2 separate regions of the Homo sapiens genome follow, and region 2 is linked to region 1. The links come from fine-mapping of genetic effects on gene expression. Tissue or cell type: breast. Region 1 holds a variant in brackets; the other region holds the start of a gene. All regions are shown on one strand. Distances are between the middles of the regions.

Evidence for each region. PIP is the estimated chance that this variant, and not a neighbour inherited with it, causes the effect.
Region 2: it holds the start of SS18L1, and the variant in region 1 is fine-mapped to the expression of SS18L1 in breast (GTEx, PIP 0.97).

Annotation. Positions count from the first base shown.
Region 1 is chr20:62,191,999-62,200,058 of GRCh38, reverse strand. MTG2 (mitochondrial ribosome associated GTPase 2) reads right to left here. Exons shown (of 7, transcript NM_015666.4): 2 at 6,435-6,643; 3 at 4,110-4,257; 4 at 2,092-2,207; 5 at 1,207-1,425; 6 at 802-940. The coding sequence starts at 6,638. Among named protein-coding and RNA genes, the nearest start is that of MTG2, 13 kb to the right of the region's middle. The variant T/C (reference allele first, on the strand shown) is at 4,184.
Region 2 is chr20:62,140,537-62,148,596 of GRCh38, reverse strand. It overlaps SS18L1 (SS18L1 subunit of BAF chromatin remodeling complex), which reads right to left and starts at 4,828. Exons shown (of 11, transcript NM_198935.3): 1 at 4,708-4,828. The coding sequence starts at 4,776. PSMA7 (proteasome 20S subunit alpha 7) reads left to right here and starts at 5,203. Exons shown (of 7, transcript NM_002792.4): 1 at 5,203-5,389; 2 at 7,653-7,779. The coding sequence starts at 5,294. RefSeq lists silencers at 4,352-4,401, 4,432-4,491, 4,612-5,321, 5,362-6,001.

The DNA.
Region 1 (8,060 bases):
GGGTGGGAACCTGATTTTCATAGAGAACAGGCTGATGAAAATTGTTTAAATTAGGGCCAGGTGCAGTAGCTCACGCCTGTAATCCCAACACTTTGGGAGACCAAGGTGGGGCGGGGGGCAGATCACTTGAGATCAGGAGTTCGAGACCAGCCTGGCCAACATGGTGAAACCCCGTCTCTACTAAAAATACAAAAAAATTAACTGGGCGTGGTGGCGCACGCCTGTAATCCCAGCTACTTGGGAGGCTGAGGCAGGAGAATCACTTAAATATGGGAGGTGGAGGTTGCAGTGAGCTGAGATCGCACCACTGCACTCCAGCCAGGGTGACAGAGTGAGACTCCGTCTCAAAAAAAAAAAAAAAAAAAAGTTGTTTACATTAGGAAAAACAATGCTACTTTTTTTTTTTTTTTTTTGAGATGGAGTTTCGCTCTGTCGCCCAGGCTGGAGTGCAGTGGCATGATCTCGGCTCACTGCAAGCTTTGCCTTCTGGGTTCATGCCATTCTCCATCCTCAGCCTCCCAAGTAGCTGGGACTACAGGTGCCCGCCACCACACCCAGCTAATTTTTTTGTATTTTTAGTAGAGACGGGGTTTCACCATGTTAGCCAGGATGGTGTCGATCTCCTGACCTCGTGATCCGCCTGCCTCGGCCTCCCAAAGTGCTGGGGTTACAGGTGTGAGCCACCACGCCTGGCCAACAATGCTACATTTTAAACAGAAAGCTAAATTTAAGAGTTACATCATTACTTTTCTGAATTACATCATTTAAATCTAACCTTTGGGAGAATTCTGGAAGTTCTACCTGCTATTTGTAGGTGGCCTTCGTAGTGGACGATCCCGACGTGGGGCTTCAGGGTGGTGAACGGGTAGGAAGCCACGGCGGGTCTGGCGTTTGAAATGGCCCGGAGCAGTGAGGACTTCCCGGCGTTGGGGAATCCCACCTGGGGGAAAGAGGGAAGACGGTGGCACGGCCCGCGGCAGCACCTTTGTTAGCGCAGAGTCTGTAACTAACTGGGATTGGAGGGAGGATTTCAGGGCTGGGGGAGTCACAAGGGCTCATGCTCACGACCAAGTCAGCAGTGTACTGATGGGAAAAAGGTGAGTCGCAAAGCTGTTCTCTTCCAGGCCACTGGCAAATCCCCATTGAGAAAAGTGGATTTTCTAGAGCTGAGTGTGTGCAGATGCTGTTGGCAGTGGGGACACCTACCATTCCGGCGTGGGCCACCGTCTTGAGCTCCAGGTGGAGAACTCGCTGCTGTCCTGGCTGTCCAGGGGTACAGGTCACAGGGGCACGGTTGTTGTTGGCCAGGAAGAAGCGGTTGCCTTTCCCTCCTGCCCCGCCCAGCGCGGCAATGTACTCATCTCCCACGCAAGACAGGTCGGCCACAACTCTGCCTCCCTCCTTCACCAGCGTGCCCACGGGGACCTGGGGAACAGCAGGCACTCATCAGCTGAGCTCTACCAGCAGTGAGGAAAGGAGGCCTTAACCCATTCCTGAAGCAAGCGCTAAGGAAAGAAGACAAGAGCGGACTGTGCCCCGGGCAGCTGCCCGCCCCACTCACCTCTGCCAACAGCTCCGGAGCACAAGGAAAAGGTCCCAGTGCTCCAGGGCTTTCACGGGGCTGCGTACACACCCTTCTGACTGCACAAAGGGCTTTTTCAAATAGTGTTTCTAAAACGTTAGTGTGAACTGAAGCACCAGAAAAAACATCTAAGAGACGAGTGAATTCAGCTCGCGAAGGAGACGCAGGCCCGCTGGGTGCCAGTGGCCTCCCTCAGTCAGAGGTCGGCTCATGGGGTCAGAGACGGAGGAAGCGTCCGTGCCGTGGGCTCCCTCTTTTTAAAAGAGAATCGTTTCATGACTTTTTCACTAGACATGCACATGGTGTGAGACCCTGGTACAAATGCCCGTCTGGGTTTGCTTTGAGGGGTGGGGCTGCTTTCCCGCTGTCTGCCAGCCTCCGTTTCCATTGTGCTGTTTCCTAGCTGTGGGCATCAAGCCACAGGGGCCCCGTGGGTCACACGGTGGCCCCCAGGAGCTGGATGATCCAGAACAACGGGGACAGGGCCAGGTCCGGCAGTCTCGGCTCACCCGGATGTAGAGGACGGCGCCACTGCGCCCGAAGCAGTTTTTACTCCCTCCATCTTCTCCACTGAAACCCTGGTACCGCGACAGGACCGACGACAGGGACTTGACTTGCTGGTCAACTAAAGCAAGAACAAGAATCTCAGTCCCTTTGTGTTACGACAACCATGGCCTATTGCTGATGTGTCTGGGTCCAGTTTAAGAACCTTAAAAATAGGTATGGAAGCATGGAGTGAGGGTGCAGCAGAAGTTACAAAACCAGCAAAGTGATTTTTTAAAAATGAAATCCTTATTTTCCTTCAAAAAGTGCTATCATTTCTGAAAATTTTTAAATTTCTTATTTTTTACAGTAGCTGTATTCTATGCTTTTGTTGTGAAGGCTTCACTCCCAGCTCGCTATGCGTCTATGCTGAGTGTGAATATAACCAGCAGCCAGCGGCACCCACCGAACCCACCACACAGGCCTCGTGCTTTCACGCGACCGACATGTCAGCTTCCCTGACAGGAAACTCTCTGTGCTCCTGAAATTAAACAAACAAAACAAAACATGTTCAAAGTTGCTTTTTCTTTTTTTTTTTAGACAGAGTCTCGCTCTGTCAGCCAGGCAGGAGTGCAGTGGCATGATCTTGGCTCACTGCAACATCTGTGTCCTGGGCTCAAGCAATTCTCGTGCCTCAGCCTCCCAAATAGCTGGGATTACAGGCATCTGCCACCACGCCTGGCTAATTTTTCTATTTTTAGTAGAGATGGGGTTTCTCCATATTGGCCAGGCTGGTCTTGAACTCCTGACCTCAGGTGATCCACTCGCCTTGGCCTCCCAAAGTGCTGGAATTATAGGCATGAGCCACTGCGCCTGGCCTCAAAGTTGCTTTTTTGGGTGTGCTACTTAACTATGAATATCCATATAATTTTTTTTTTATGTTTTATGTTTTTATTTTTTTGAGACGGAGTTTCACTCTTGTTGCCGAGGCTAGAGTGCAATGGCACGATCTCAGCTCACCGCAACCTCTGCCTCCTGGATTCAAGCAATTCTCCTGCCTCAGCCTCCCTAGTAGCTGGGATTACAAGTGCCCACCACCACGCCCAGCTAATTTTTTTTGTATTTTTTGTAGAGACGGGGTTTCACCATGTTGGCCAGGCTGGTCTCGAACTCCTGACCTTAAGCGATCCACCCGCCTCGGTCTCCCAAAGTGCTGGGATTACAGGTGTGAGCCACCACGCCCGGCTGAATATCCATATAATTTATAAAAATGATATCCATACATCAGGGTTTTTTTTGTTTGTTTGTTTTGTTTTGTTTTTTTGAGATAGGGTCTTCCTCTGTTGGCCAGGCTGGAGTGCAGCAGCACAATCGGAGCTCACTGCAACCTCGACCTCCTGGGCTCAAGCCATCCTCCTGCTTCAGCCCCAAGTAGCTGGGACTATCAGTGTGTGCCACCACATCTGGTTATTATTATTATTTTTTAAGAGACAGGATTTCACCACGTTGGCCAGGCTGGTCTCGAACTCCGGACCTCAAGCGATCCACCCGCCTCGGTCTCCCAAAGTTCTGGGATTACAGGCATGAGCCACTGCGCCTAGCTGGGTTTTAAAAATTTTACTTTTTTTTTTTTTAGAGATAGGGTATTGCTCTGTCACCCATGCTGGAATATGCAGTGGTGTGATCACGATTCACTGCAGCCTTGAACTTCTGGGATCCAGCAATCCTCCTGAGTAGCTGGGACCACAGGTGCACGCTACCATGTCTGGCTAATTTTTTCAAAAATTTTTTGTAGATCCACAAACCTTGAGGCAAAAAAAAAAAAACAAAAAAACAAACAAACAAAAAAGACATGGTCTTGCTATATTGTCCAGGCTGGTCTTGAACTTATGGGCTCAAGTGATCCTCCTGCCTCAGCCTCTCCAAGTGCTGGGATCACAGGCATAAGCCACTGTGCCTGCCCATACATCAGGTTTTTAGTTCAAATGCACATGCAGTCTCGGGGCCCCTCCTCAACCCCGCTGCACTGCCCCAGGGCACCTGCCTCTCAGAATGACGTGTCCACCGTTGCCTCCGTCCCCTCCATCAGGGCCTCCAAACTCCTTGCGGGGCTCACTG[T/C]GGAAGCAGCTTGCCCCAGCGCCTCCGTTTCCTCCACAGACAAGCACTCTCCGATAGTCCACAAAGTACCTTTTCTACAGAGAACACAAATATCCCACGTCATCTCAACACTCCAAGGTCCTTTCAAGACACCATGCATCCATTTGAGATGTACATCTTCTATCTATAACAGCCTATTAAAATTAGAGGTTAATGACACTAATATTGCTAATCACTTCTAAATTCCGAAGATAAAAAACAGTCTCCACAAGTCAGTTGCATTTGTAGACTGAGGTAAATCCACAATGCAGATGTAAGTATTCTGTGTGGACCTACACTTCAAAAATTCAGCATTTCTTACTCTGGGTGAGACTGATTTAAAAACCAACAACAAAAATCAGCATTTCTAAGCTAAAAAACCCACATCTTGTTTAGGAAATATTCCTTATATAATGTGTCTTTCCATTCAAAAAAACCATTCCTGAAATCATAGATCTTTACTCTTAGAAAGTTCTAGTTTCCCAGGATGCGATAGAGAAATAGGAAGTTAGAATCGTTCCTGGACAATTACCAGGCTTTCGACTCTGAAGAAAGAGTATTTTCTGGGGCCTGATGAAAACAGGGCTCATTTAAAAAATGTGGTGAGGCAAACAGAGCCCCTCGCTGGAGGGAAAGCTGTTTTGTTTTTTGTGGTTTTTTTTGAGGCAGAGTCTCGCTCTGTCGCCCAGGCTGGAGTGCAACGGTGGGATCTCGGCTCACTGCAAGCTCTGCCTCCCAGGTTCATGCCATTCTCCTGCCTCAGCCTCCTAAGTAGCTGGGACTACAGGCACCCGCCACTGCGCCCGGCTAGTTTTTTGTATTTTTAGTAGAGACGGGGTTTCACCGTGTTGGCCAGGATGGTCTCGATCTCCTGACCTCGTGATCCACCCGCCTCGGCCTCCCAAAGTGCTGGGACTACAGGCGTGAGCCACTGTGCCCGGCTAGGAAAGCTGTTCTGTAGGTCACTAAGGTAGGTGCAATCTGGATGAAGAGAGAGAACCAACCAGGTTACTGTTCAACACACAACAGCTCCTACCACAGGAGGGTCAGCTCCCGCAGCCCAGGGTGCTGCAACCTCACCACACGCTGGGGAGGACACCTGGCTTCTGCCCACGTGCACAGACAGACGTGCCCTGCCCCTGACAGCCACCCAGGGCTGCTGCCTCTGCACTCCGATCCAATACTCCTCAAATGCAGTTTTTTTTTCTTTTAAAAGAAAATTTTAAAACATTTAAAATTTTTAAACACAAAAATTTAAACACAAAAAAAAATTTAAAAATTTAAAACACAAACATTCTAAGATTCTTTGGCACCACCATGTGGGAAAACCACGAACTGTTATTTCCAAATTTCAATGTGTAATGCTGTCATGCGCCAACGCAAGCAAAATCCACCAGACAGGGAGGAAAGCCCCACTGGTGAGCACTTCGTGGAGGACAAAACCTCGACTCACTTTCTCTCCTGGGGAGGAGACAAGCCTGTGCTAACGCTTCAGCTATTTGAGCACACATCCCACCAAAGCGGCTTTTCCACTGGAAGTGCTGTTTGTCCCAGTAATGCTTATCTGGAGCCCCTCCATTCAGCAGGAAACGAAGGGAGTCATAAACGTGCATTTTCTTGAATTTATTAGAGACAATTCATGCTTTAAATAGGAGGTTTTGGTAAATAGAACAAGAAAAACTTATAAGGCTTAAAGAACCATAAAACGGAAGGTATATTCCCCCCTACTTGTTTTATTTTTATTTATTTATTAATTTAAAAAGGTTTTTTTTTTTTTTTTAGTAGAGACAGGGTTTCACCATGTTGGCCAGGCTGGTCTCGAACTCCTGACCTCAAGTGATCCGCCTGCCTTAGCCTCCCAAAGTGTTGGGATAACAGGCATGAGCCACCGTGCCCAGCCTCCGCATTTGTTTTAAATTAAGAAATAGCCACACATATGAAAGGATATATGTAACATACATGTAAAATACACAGGCTCATGGGAAAATGAGCAGCCTGTATCACGGCTTTCCAAGCACGCAGCGCCTCTCCCAGCCTGCTGGGATTTGCTGAGCGTGGGATTTAGCACGCAGGCCTGCGTTTCACCCTGTCATTTTCAAGAAGCTCCACGTGCCCCATCACTAAGATCATCAACTAACATCAACAGAGATGAGACCCAGAGGAGGACCCGAAACCACACCCTGTGCCTTCTGAGGAGGAGACAGGCAAGCTGCTCTAACTCCAGGAGTCTCACCAGCTTTTTCTCAGAGAGCAGCTTCTTCCCCGGGAGTTCCTGATGCTTGGCGAGGTCCGCACGGCCGACCGAGAGCAGCCTGGGAGAAGCCCGCTGTGGCAGTAGCCGGCTGGGCTTCAGGCCAGCCCATGTGGACAAAGCCCAATGCCCCACGCCCTGAAACACGGTCCTCAATCTTGCTGAGAAACACCTTGCAGGTGCCATGGCCCCTACAGAAGTCAAATTGGCAAAATGAGATACTTGGTTTAATGCTGGGCATGAAACAGAAACTGAAGACGAGGGCCTCATGCAGCAGGTCTTTGTGCACGTTTCTGAAACAAACAAGTGAACTGATGAATCCGATTTTCCTGGTCACTCACCCTCTCGGCCCTGGGTCACGTCTTGCCCTCTGACCCGTCAGCCTATCTGTGACTTGGGAGCAGGATTTCTGTACAAAGGATTTAAAACATGAAATCTTCCACAACACTGGACACATCCTCTTATGGAATAGCAAGGTTCCGCTCAACGAAAATATTAAAAAGGAAATCTGAAGTGCAAGTCAAAATTTCTTGAAAAGAAAAACACCCATTTATTAAAATGTTATCAAGAGTGTTATCCTGTGTAATTTTAAAGTTGTTACATTGGAACACAAGAATATTAAACATGGGGCATAGCGGCTAAGCACCCAGGCTCTGGAAAGTAACTCTAAGGGAAGGCCATCCACCTGTGTGGCCTCGGCCTCCTCACACGGCTGGGTGAGGACGGGCTGAGCTGATCCACACGGCTGCACAACCGCGGCCCTGGCTGTGGCACCGATAGAATGAGAAGAACACACTTGGCCCCTGCTCCTGGCTCCTGACACAGAGCTCTCAGAACGCTGGTAATTTCCTGAGTGACAGGGGCGATAGGGGTGCCTGACACAGAGCTCCTAAATCCCTTGGACTTCCCAGGTGACAGGAGAGTCTTCTGTTCTAATGAGGCACCTCTTGGTGGGCTCCTGGATGGCCTTGGGAGGGGGCTGGTCATCATAAAGACCAAGCCACGATGAGAAGCCTGGACCTTTCGGCCCCACCCCCACCCTCCAAAAAGGGCAGAGGGGCTGGAGGCTGAGTTCATAACTGATCATGTCTCCATGATGAGGCCTCCATGGAAATCCTGGAACTAGGGGCTCTGGAAAGCTTTCAGTTTGGTGAACTCATCCCCGTGCTGTAAGGCCAGCCACACAACTCCCTGGGGACAAAGGCTCCTATGCTTAGGACCCTCTGGGCCTCGCCCGTGCCCCTCCTCACCCAGCTGCCTGCCTGTGCCCGCTGTGGCATCCTTTATAGTAAACTGGCAATGCAAACCAAGTGCCTTCCTGAGTTCTGTGAGCCACTACCGCAAATCATCAAACCTGAAGGGGTCGTAGGAACTCCCAATGTGTAGCCAAGATGGACAGAAGTGTGGGTACCCCAGGGACCCACTACTTGCAATTAGCATCTGAAGTGGGGGGTGACTGAGCCCCTAACGCTGGGGTCCCTGATAACCGCGGCAGGGTCAGACTGAACTGAATTACAGGATGCCTGGCTGGTGTCTGCAGAGGACTGGCGAATTGTTGGTGTGGAAAACCCACACATTTGGTGCCTGATGTGTAGTGTGGGTGGAAAT
Region 2 (8,060 bases), 51 kb after region 1:
AAGACAGCAAGGAGGCTGAGCCTCCCTCACCTAAGACAGCAAGGAGGCCGAGCCTCCCTCACCTGACCGAAGACAGCAAGGAGGCCGAGCCTCCCTCACCTGACCGAAGAGAGCAAGGAGGCCAAGCCTCCCTCACCTAAGACAGCAAGGAGGCCAAGCCTCCCTCACCTGACCTAAGACAGCAAGGAGGCCGAGCCTCCCTCACCTGACCTAAGACAGCAAGGAGGCCGAGCCTCCCTCACCTGACCGAAGAGAGCAAGGAGGCCAAGCCTCCCTCACCTAAGACAGCAAGGAGGCCAAGCCTCCCTCACCTGACCTAAGACAGCAAGGAGGCCGAGCCTCCCTCACCTGACCTAAGACAGCAAGGAGGCCGAGCAAGGCCGGTGGCTGCGGGGTCCCTCCCCGGGGCTGAGCCCAGGCTCCGGAATGAGGGGACCCAACCCCCCTATCCCTGCGGATGTAAAGACAGGCCCCCATGCTCCCCTTCTCGGGTGGGGGGAGCCTCTGATCGCAGGAGGAACGCTGTCAATCAGCCACATGCAAGGGAGGCTCGGCATCCCCAAGCCATTCAGTCACTGGACAGCTTTAACCTTACAAACACTCCTAGCCAAATTAGCTTGCGTTCCTTCAGACAGCAAGTTCCACTTCTGAGGGAGCACACAGGGTGCCCACTGCCTACTGGGTGTGCACCCCATCCTCCGCAGCCCATCCCCACCCAGAAGTGCGCCCCTTGCCCATGCCCCACCCCCGCACCTGGGTACCAAGGACATGGGGTAGGGCTGGTCCAGCTTCAACAACTCCCTGGCTCTCGGACCCTGGGCACGGCACTAACCCACCCCACGAAGGTCTTGTCTTCCCACACCAAACCCACCCAGCAGGCGGCCCCAGGGGCCCACCTCCTCTCAGCTCCATCCCATTCCCTCAGAGCCTTTCCCCAACCCTGCCCCGCAACAGGTGCTGGGGATCCAGACACCCAGCAGACAGGCAGACACCACTGCTATTATCCGGCCAAGGAAACCAATGAGAAAACCAATACAAACAGAAACAGTAACACATTTATTGAGCAATTACTGCATGCCAAGCAGCAAAGAGGCAACTCAGGGGTCCCCTTCAAGCCTGGCCACATGGTCCGAGGTGACCACTGCAGGCCCAGCCCCAACAGCAGCGTAAGGAGCACGCACTGGACAACAGAACACTACAGTCCCCAGCTGGTGGCTAGAGAACACCCAGCCAGGCCCAGGGCCACCGTGGGGACATGGCCCAGCCCCACCGCAGGGTTCCCCAGCACAGTCATGTCCTCTGTGGTGCTTGCCACAGAGCAGTTCTGACTGTCTCACCCACACACTGCTGCCTGGTCACCACCAGCTACCCTCCCCACATCAGCCCAGCACCCCCTGCCCTTCCACTTTAGGTCCCCCAATACCTGCTCCATGCAGGCCAGGCTCGGGACCCTCTGTGACTCCCTGCCCCTGCCCCATGGTTCTCTTTCTCTGGGATAGCCCTCACCACAAACGCACTCTCGTGGGCTAAACTGTACCCAGACCCCTGGTGCCTGCGCATGGGAGGTACTGGAAATGAGGTATTTGAAAATGAAATAAAGACGGGGTCATGCTGGATTAAGGTAGGCCCTAAAACCAGTGACTAGAGTCCTTATAAAAAGTGGGAAATTGAGGCCAGGCATGGTGGCTCATGCCTGTAATCCCAGCACTTTGGGAGGCTAAGGGGGGGAGGGGGCAGATCACTTGGGGTCGGGAGTTCAAGACCAGCCTGGCCAACACAGAGAAACTCCGTCTCTACTAAAAATACAAAATTAGCCGGGCGTGGTGGCACGCGCCTATAATCCCAGCTACTCAGGAGGCTGAGGCAGGAGAATCGCTTGAACCTTGAACGTGGGCGGGGGCGCGGAGGTTGTGAGCCCGAGATCGCGCCACTGCACTCTAGCCTGGGCAACAAGAGCGAAACTCCATCTCAAAAAAAAAAAAAAAAAAAAATGATCAAAGCAGAGACACGCTGGATGCACCTACAAGCCAGAGAACACCAAGGGCTGCCCGCAGTCATCAGAAGCCAGGAGAAGAGCAGGTAACTGACCCCTGGACTTGGGACTTCTGGTCTCCAGAACTGTGAGGGAATAGATTTCTGTTGTTTGAAGCCACCTGGGTTGTGGGAATGTGTCAAGGAAGTCACAGGACACGAACGCATCTGCTTATCTCAAAACGCTTCCACTGATGGGACCAGCGTCACAGATGATCCAGCACGTGCTCAGCACTAACTGTGCTCAGACACTATGAGAGGCTGGGGATCAGCAAAGAATAATCAGTCACATGCCAAACTCAGGAGCTCAAGCAAGTGCTACAAGGGCCACATGACTGCCGACGGAGCATGAGACGCGGAACACGTGAGTGAGGCTTTGAAGGTTGAGTAGAAGTTGGCCTGGAAGATCTCCACCCACACAGAATGCTGTAAGGACAAGGTGTAGACCTCTTTCTCCTTCACTACCAAGCAGAATGCTGTAAGGACAAGTTGTAGACCTCCTTCTCCTTCACTACCACGCAGAATGCTGTAAGGACAAGTTGTAGACCTCTTTCTCCTTCGCTACCACGCAGAATGCTGTAAGGACAAGTTGTAGACTTCCTTCTCCTTCACTACCACGCAGGCTTCAGAGGGGTCCCTGGCTTCTCTTAAAGCTCTCGGCATGACACTACCAGCACACACTGTGGACACAGCACACGTCTGAGGCATAGAACATACACCTCTCACACCTTTCTCAGCCTTCTCACACCTCCCAGTAAAAGATCCCTGGGTACATATATTCACCGTCAAAACACCAAGCCCAATACGCAGACTGCTGGCCCTACCAAGCCAAGTCAGCAGCCTAAACTGAAGGCCTATTTCCAATGGTCAGCAGGCTGAGTTTCTGCCCAGGGACCCACGGTCCACAGGTGCATTTCTTCCTTTCTGATCTGATGTTCGGGGCAGCACCTCAATACACACTTTTACCTGGAGAATTTGGGGAGCTTCAATGGAACTGTGTGCGAAGTGCAAATAATGGGATAAACGTTGCAGCCAAAGGTAGCTTCAGGAACAATGACTGTTAAGCTCCAAAAAACCAGAGTGCCAGGAGATGCTCTGGGTTCCAACATTTGCCTCTGAGCCTAGAGCTTGACCTCCGCCTGGCCAAATGTTCCCAGATCAAGGGGCACCAACAGAGCAGACCCTGGAGCCACCGTATGGGATCGACACCTGGCTGTGCCACTTACCAGCAAGGCATTTAGCCCCCCTAGGCCTCAGTGTCCACTTACCAGCAAGGCACGGCCTCCCTAGGCCGCAGCCTCTTTAGCTATTAAACGGGATGCCAGTAGCTTCTATGAAGAATTGGATGAATCAAGATTTATAAAACCCCTAGAACAGTGTCTGGGATACGGTAAGCGCCACATAAGTGTTTACTAAGTAAATTAAAATGCCACACTTGTAAATCTGTATTTCTGCTATTCTCAATCTCTCCTGTTCAGAGTTGGCCAAGGTTCTCATTTGTTAAGACCATCAAATTTCTAAAACTAGCAACAGCAAAGGTAGTCTCAAAATAGGCGATAGATTTAGGACAACTTCCACAGGAGACTGGCACGTCATCAAGGAATAACAGCCTCAGTCAAGGTCAAGGTGAACCCCCTTAGGGAGACAAGCGGCTCCTGGGAACCTAGGAATACCACTGTTTATCCCTGCAATCCCACCAGGGTGAAGACGGAGTCAGAGTTTAGGAAAAAAAACCAATGTCATTCCAACAGATGTTGTGACAACTGAAACGGGTATGGCTAATGCTGATTTTCTTCCGAATCTGTCTTCTACAGAAAAAACAGCAGAAAATACAAAGTCTCAATTTCAAAACTTAGGGCTTTGGATAACGGTGTCCCAAACCCACATAAACGCTGTCTCTTGAAAACCACAAGGCCGAACTTACGGAGCTAGAAGAAAGGTTGTGGAGCAAATCCGTCAAGTTTGTTAGGCGAGGCGGCTGGCGAGGGTGTCACGCTGAAACCCGGCGTAGCCGCGAGGATACGGAGGGGGCGGTGCGCTCCCTACGGGGCCGGGCTGCGTAACGATGCCCCGCAAATGGGGATCGGGACGCGTCCTTCCGTGCCTCCATCGTTCGCGCCTCGCTCCAGGAGCAAGAGGGGCAGCCCCGGCCACAGTCCCCGCGGTCGCAAGTGCGCCCGGAGGCCGACCCGGGCCCCTCACCACTAACCAAAATGAGCGCAGAAAACGAGTACCGCCCGCCGTCGCCACCGAAGCTGGCTGCGGAGCGCGACAAGCCCTCGCCGCGGCTCCGGCCCCGAGGGGTCCCCGTGCGCCCGGCATAGCCCAGGACAGTTCCCAGCGCGCGCCGCGGACTCGGGGGACAGCGCGCTCGGGGGCCGGCAGCCTCCAGCGTCCGCCCGGCCCCCACCGCCCAGTGCCCCGGCCCGAGGGACCCGCGCGCCCCAACAAAGTTGGCGCAGGCTCTCCGGGGACCGCCCCCCACACGGCCGGGTGCCCGCCGGCGCGCAGGCGTGGGACGCGGGGAAGGGCACGGGGCCGCCGTCGGGGCTCGCGGCCGCCCGGCTGCGCCCCGGCTTTGTTCGCGCCCCGCGCCCGCCAGCTGCCCGCGCCCCGTCCCCGCGCGCGCCCGCCCGCAGACCCGCCGCCCAGCGCCGCCGCTCCGGCCCGGCCCACCTTCTGGATGGTTTGCTGCGTAACCTCCCCTTTGCCTCTTGGCCGGGCAGACGCGAAGGCCACGGACATGGTGGCGGCGCGGGGCTCAGCCCGTGGTCATCGAGGTGGATACTCCGGCTGCGCTGGGCGGCCCGAGGCGCTCATTATCCGCAGTCGCGGAGGGGGGGAAGGGGGCGGGAGCGCGGGGGGCGCCGCGTCGTGGGCTCGTCCGCCCCGTCGCCGTCGCCGCGCCTCCGGGCCCGCGGCGCCGCCGCTCCGCCCTGCAGAACGGTCTGCGGCCCAGTGCCGAACGGTGGCCCCCGGCGACCCCCTCGCACCCAGCGCCCGGCCCTCGCCGGAGCACCGCCTCCCACCCCCGGCCACCGGTGGTTCGGCCTGACCCCGCCCCGGCGCGCGCCATCACGTCCGCCCGACGCCGCCTGACGCTGCCCGTCGCCGCCTGACGCCGCCCGTCGCCGGCAGCGCAGGACACGGCGCCGAGGGTGGGGCGCGGGCGTAGTGGCGCCGGGAGTCGCGGGTGCGCGCGGGCCGTGAGTGTGCGCTTTTGAGAGTCGCGGCGGAAGGAGCCCGGCCGCCGCCCGCCGGCATGAGCTACGACCGCGCCATCACCGTCTTCTCGCCCGACGGCCACCTCTTCCAAGTGGAGTACGCGCAGGAGGCCGTCAAGAAGGGCTCGACCGCGGTGAGGCGGCGGGGCCTGCGCGGGGCCGGGGACGCGGGCGGAAGTGGGGCTGGGGAGCCCAGAGAGGGCCGGGGCCGGGCGCGGCGCTGTGGGCGCCCGCGGGCGTGCGCGGGGCAGCGGCGCGGGCGGTCAGGGCTGTAGCTGAGCGCGGGCCCCGCTGCCGGTCTCCACGAGTGCCTGCAGAGGCGGCGTTTGGCGTGAGCCGCGAGCGCTCGTTCTCCCCACTCAGCGCCTCGCTTGGGGCCCGGCCTCGCGTGGGGCCCCGGGCACGGGGGCCGTGACGACGCCATCTTGAGCACCCCTGGCCCCGGCCGGGCGCGTGGGTCGCGCCGCCGCCCCGGCGAGCAGAGGCCGGGCGAGGGCCGCTCTGGGCCGCGGAGCGCGGGGGGTAGGCCGTGCGCTCGCTGGGGGGCTGTTCACGCAGCCGGGTGGCTGGGGAGCGAACTACTCAAACCCCCCTTATGGGGACCCCCACCCGCTCCGGGGCAACACTTATTCTCTAGGCCCAGGTGGGCTTCGAGAACAAAGCGGCTCGCTGGCCTGGCCGGTGGCGGGCGCCTCCCAGGTCTCCGCACTCTGCCGGGAGGAGCCTTCCCGGGGCCGGGCTGCAGCCGCCCGGGTCAGGACTGGTTTGGACGCGGCCGTTTCGTTTTGACGAGGGCTCGTGTACATTGACCTTAGTGACATTGTTTGAAACTTAAATTCGTACCATCAAGACGTGTCAGTTTAATTGGTCAGTCTGTGAGATCGTTATTCTTTTATCATCTGGTATTCAGAGGTTTGAGCAGGCAGAGAAAGCAGCACACACGGTTCTGTAAATTTTGATTTGTTTTCATTTTCTGAATCTTTGTTTTGAAATGAAGGCCCAGTATTCATCAGGTGATCTAACTCAGCTTAAAGAGGACTAGGAGTCGGCTGACCCCTGTACCCACCCCAATACTGCCACCCCCGCCAGCTGGCCGCCGCTGGCTTTAACGAACCCATATAGCTTCTCTGGGCCTCGAGTCAGTCGAAGGTCAAGTGAGTCAGTACCTGAGAAAGCTCCCAGAAAACCCAAACACTTCAGATCAATACTTCTCAGCCAGGGATGGTTTTGGGCCCACACGGAGCCACTGGCAGTGTGTGGAGACTTTTCCAGTGGTAAGACCTTGCAGAGGTGCTCTTGGCATTTGGAGGGTAGAGGCCAGGGACGCTGCTCAATATCCCACCCGTGCTCAGGGCGGCAGGCACAGGGAGATCCCCCTGCCCAGGTGCTCACAGTGCTGAGCTGGAGAAGCCCTGCTCTAAACCAGGAGGCGCTGTTTATCCCAATGATGGTTCCCTTTGTTTCTGGCTTGACTCGGGTTGACTGTCAGTGATTGTTCATGCTTTTAATAACAGCCATATCCTTCTCCAGCATCAGCCATAAACAGTTTGGGATAACACTTGACACCTTGTCCACTGACGGCAAATCAGGCCCCTTCTCATGGCTGTCACATGAGTATGTCACAGTGCAGGAAACAGTGCATTGTGGCTCAATATAATTTCACAACTACAGAAACACTGCCTTCAGAACACCAGACTTGAGTGAAAGTCTCAGGCTTCCAGGCTTTGCATGGGACTGATTCATTGGGTTGAAAGGAAACACATGCCGATTATATAATGGTTACTTACTAGCTATGTTGTAACTAAAACTACATCTCAGTATTTGAAAGGCCCAGGTTGGGCACCTAGGTGAGCACGCCTGGGCTAGCTCTACCAGCAGTAGATGAATACCCCTGGGTTTGCAGGATGTGGTGCCAGCCACAGTGACAGACAAGTAGAGGAGAAAGGGGTGTGGGTGAACGCACCTTCCAGTGGGAGCTGCTACCCGGAGTACGTACCCCCCAGGACCCAGGTTCAGATCTGCTCCTACTGCTCGCTGCCTGGCAGTAGAACCATGTATCACTTTTTTGGGAGGATAGGGTGGGGTGAGGGGACAGGGTCTTGCTGTCTCTGTCTCCCAGCCGTCATGGCTCACTGCAGCCTCCACCTTCCAGGCTCTAGCGATCCTCCCACCAGCCCCCACAGTAGCTGGGACTACAGGCTTCAGCCACCACACCTGGCTAATTTTTGTACTTTTTGTAGAGACAGGGTTTTCCCATGTTGTCCGGCTGGTCTTGAACTCTTGAATTTAAGTCATCCACCCACCTCAGCCTCCCAAAGTGCTGGAATTAACAGGCATGAGCCACTGCACCCAGCACTCATATCACTTTCTTACGTGGTTTGTGGATCTTAATTAAAGGTTGGTGTTCGAGGAAGAGACATTGTTGTTCTTGGTGTGGAGAAGAAGTCAGTGGCCAAACTGCAGGATGAAAGAACAGTGCGGAAGATCTGTGCTTTGGATGACAACGTCTGCATGGCCTTTGCAGGTATGAGTCGGTGGGGAGCGCTGTCTTACTCTCTAGAGTCTCAGCGAAGAATAGGGCTTTGGAGATTAACTTGGGTGTGTGGGCTATTGTGAGCCATATAAACTGAGTAAATGAAAATCATTTAAAAGAATTGGATTTGGACTTTTAAGTTGGCTAGTTTCTTTGGTGGCCTCTCTCTGCCATAGCAGGTGAAACAAATGGCTAAATGGATGAAAACACTTCTGGCTGCTGCGCAATTTGACCTCCACTGTTATTTTTCTGTATCAATCAGTTACAATCTA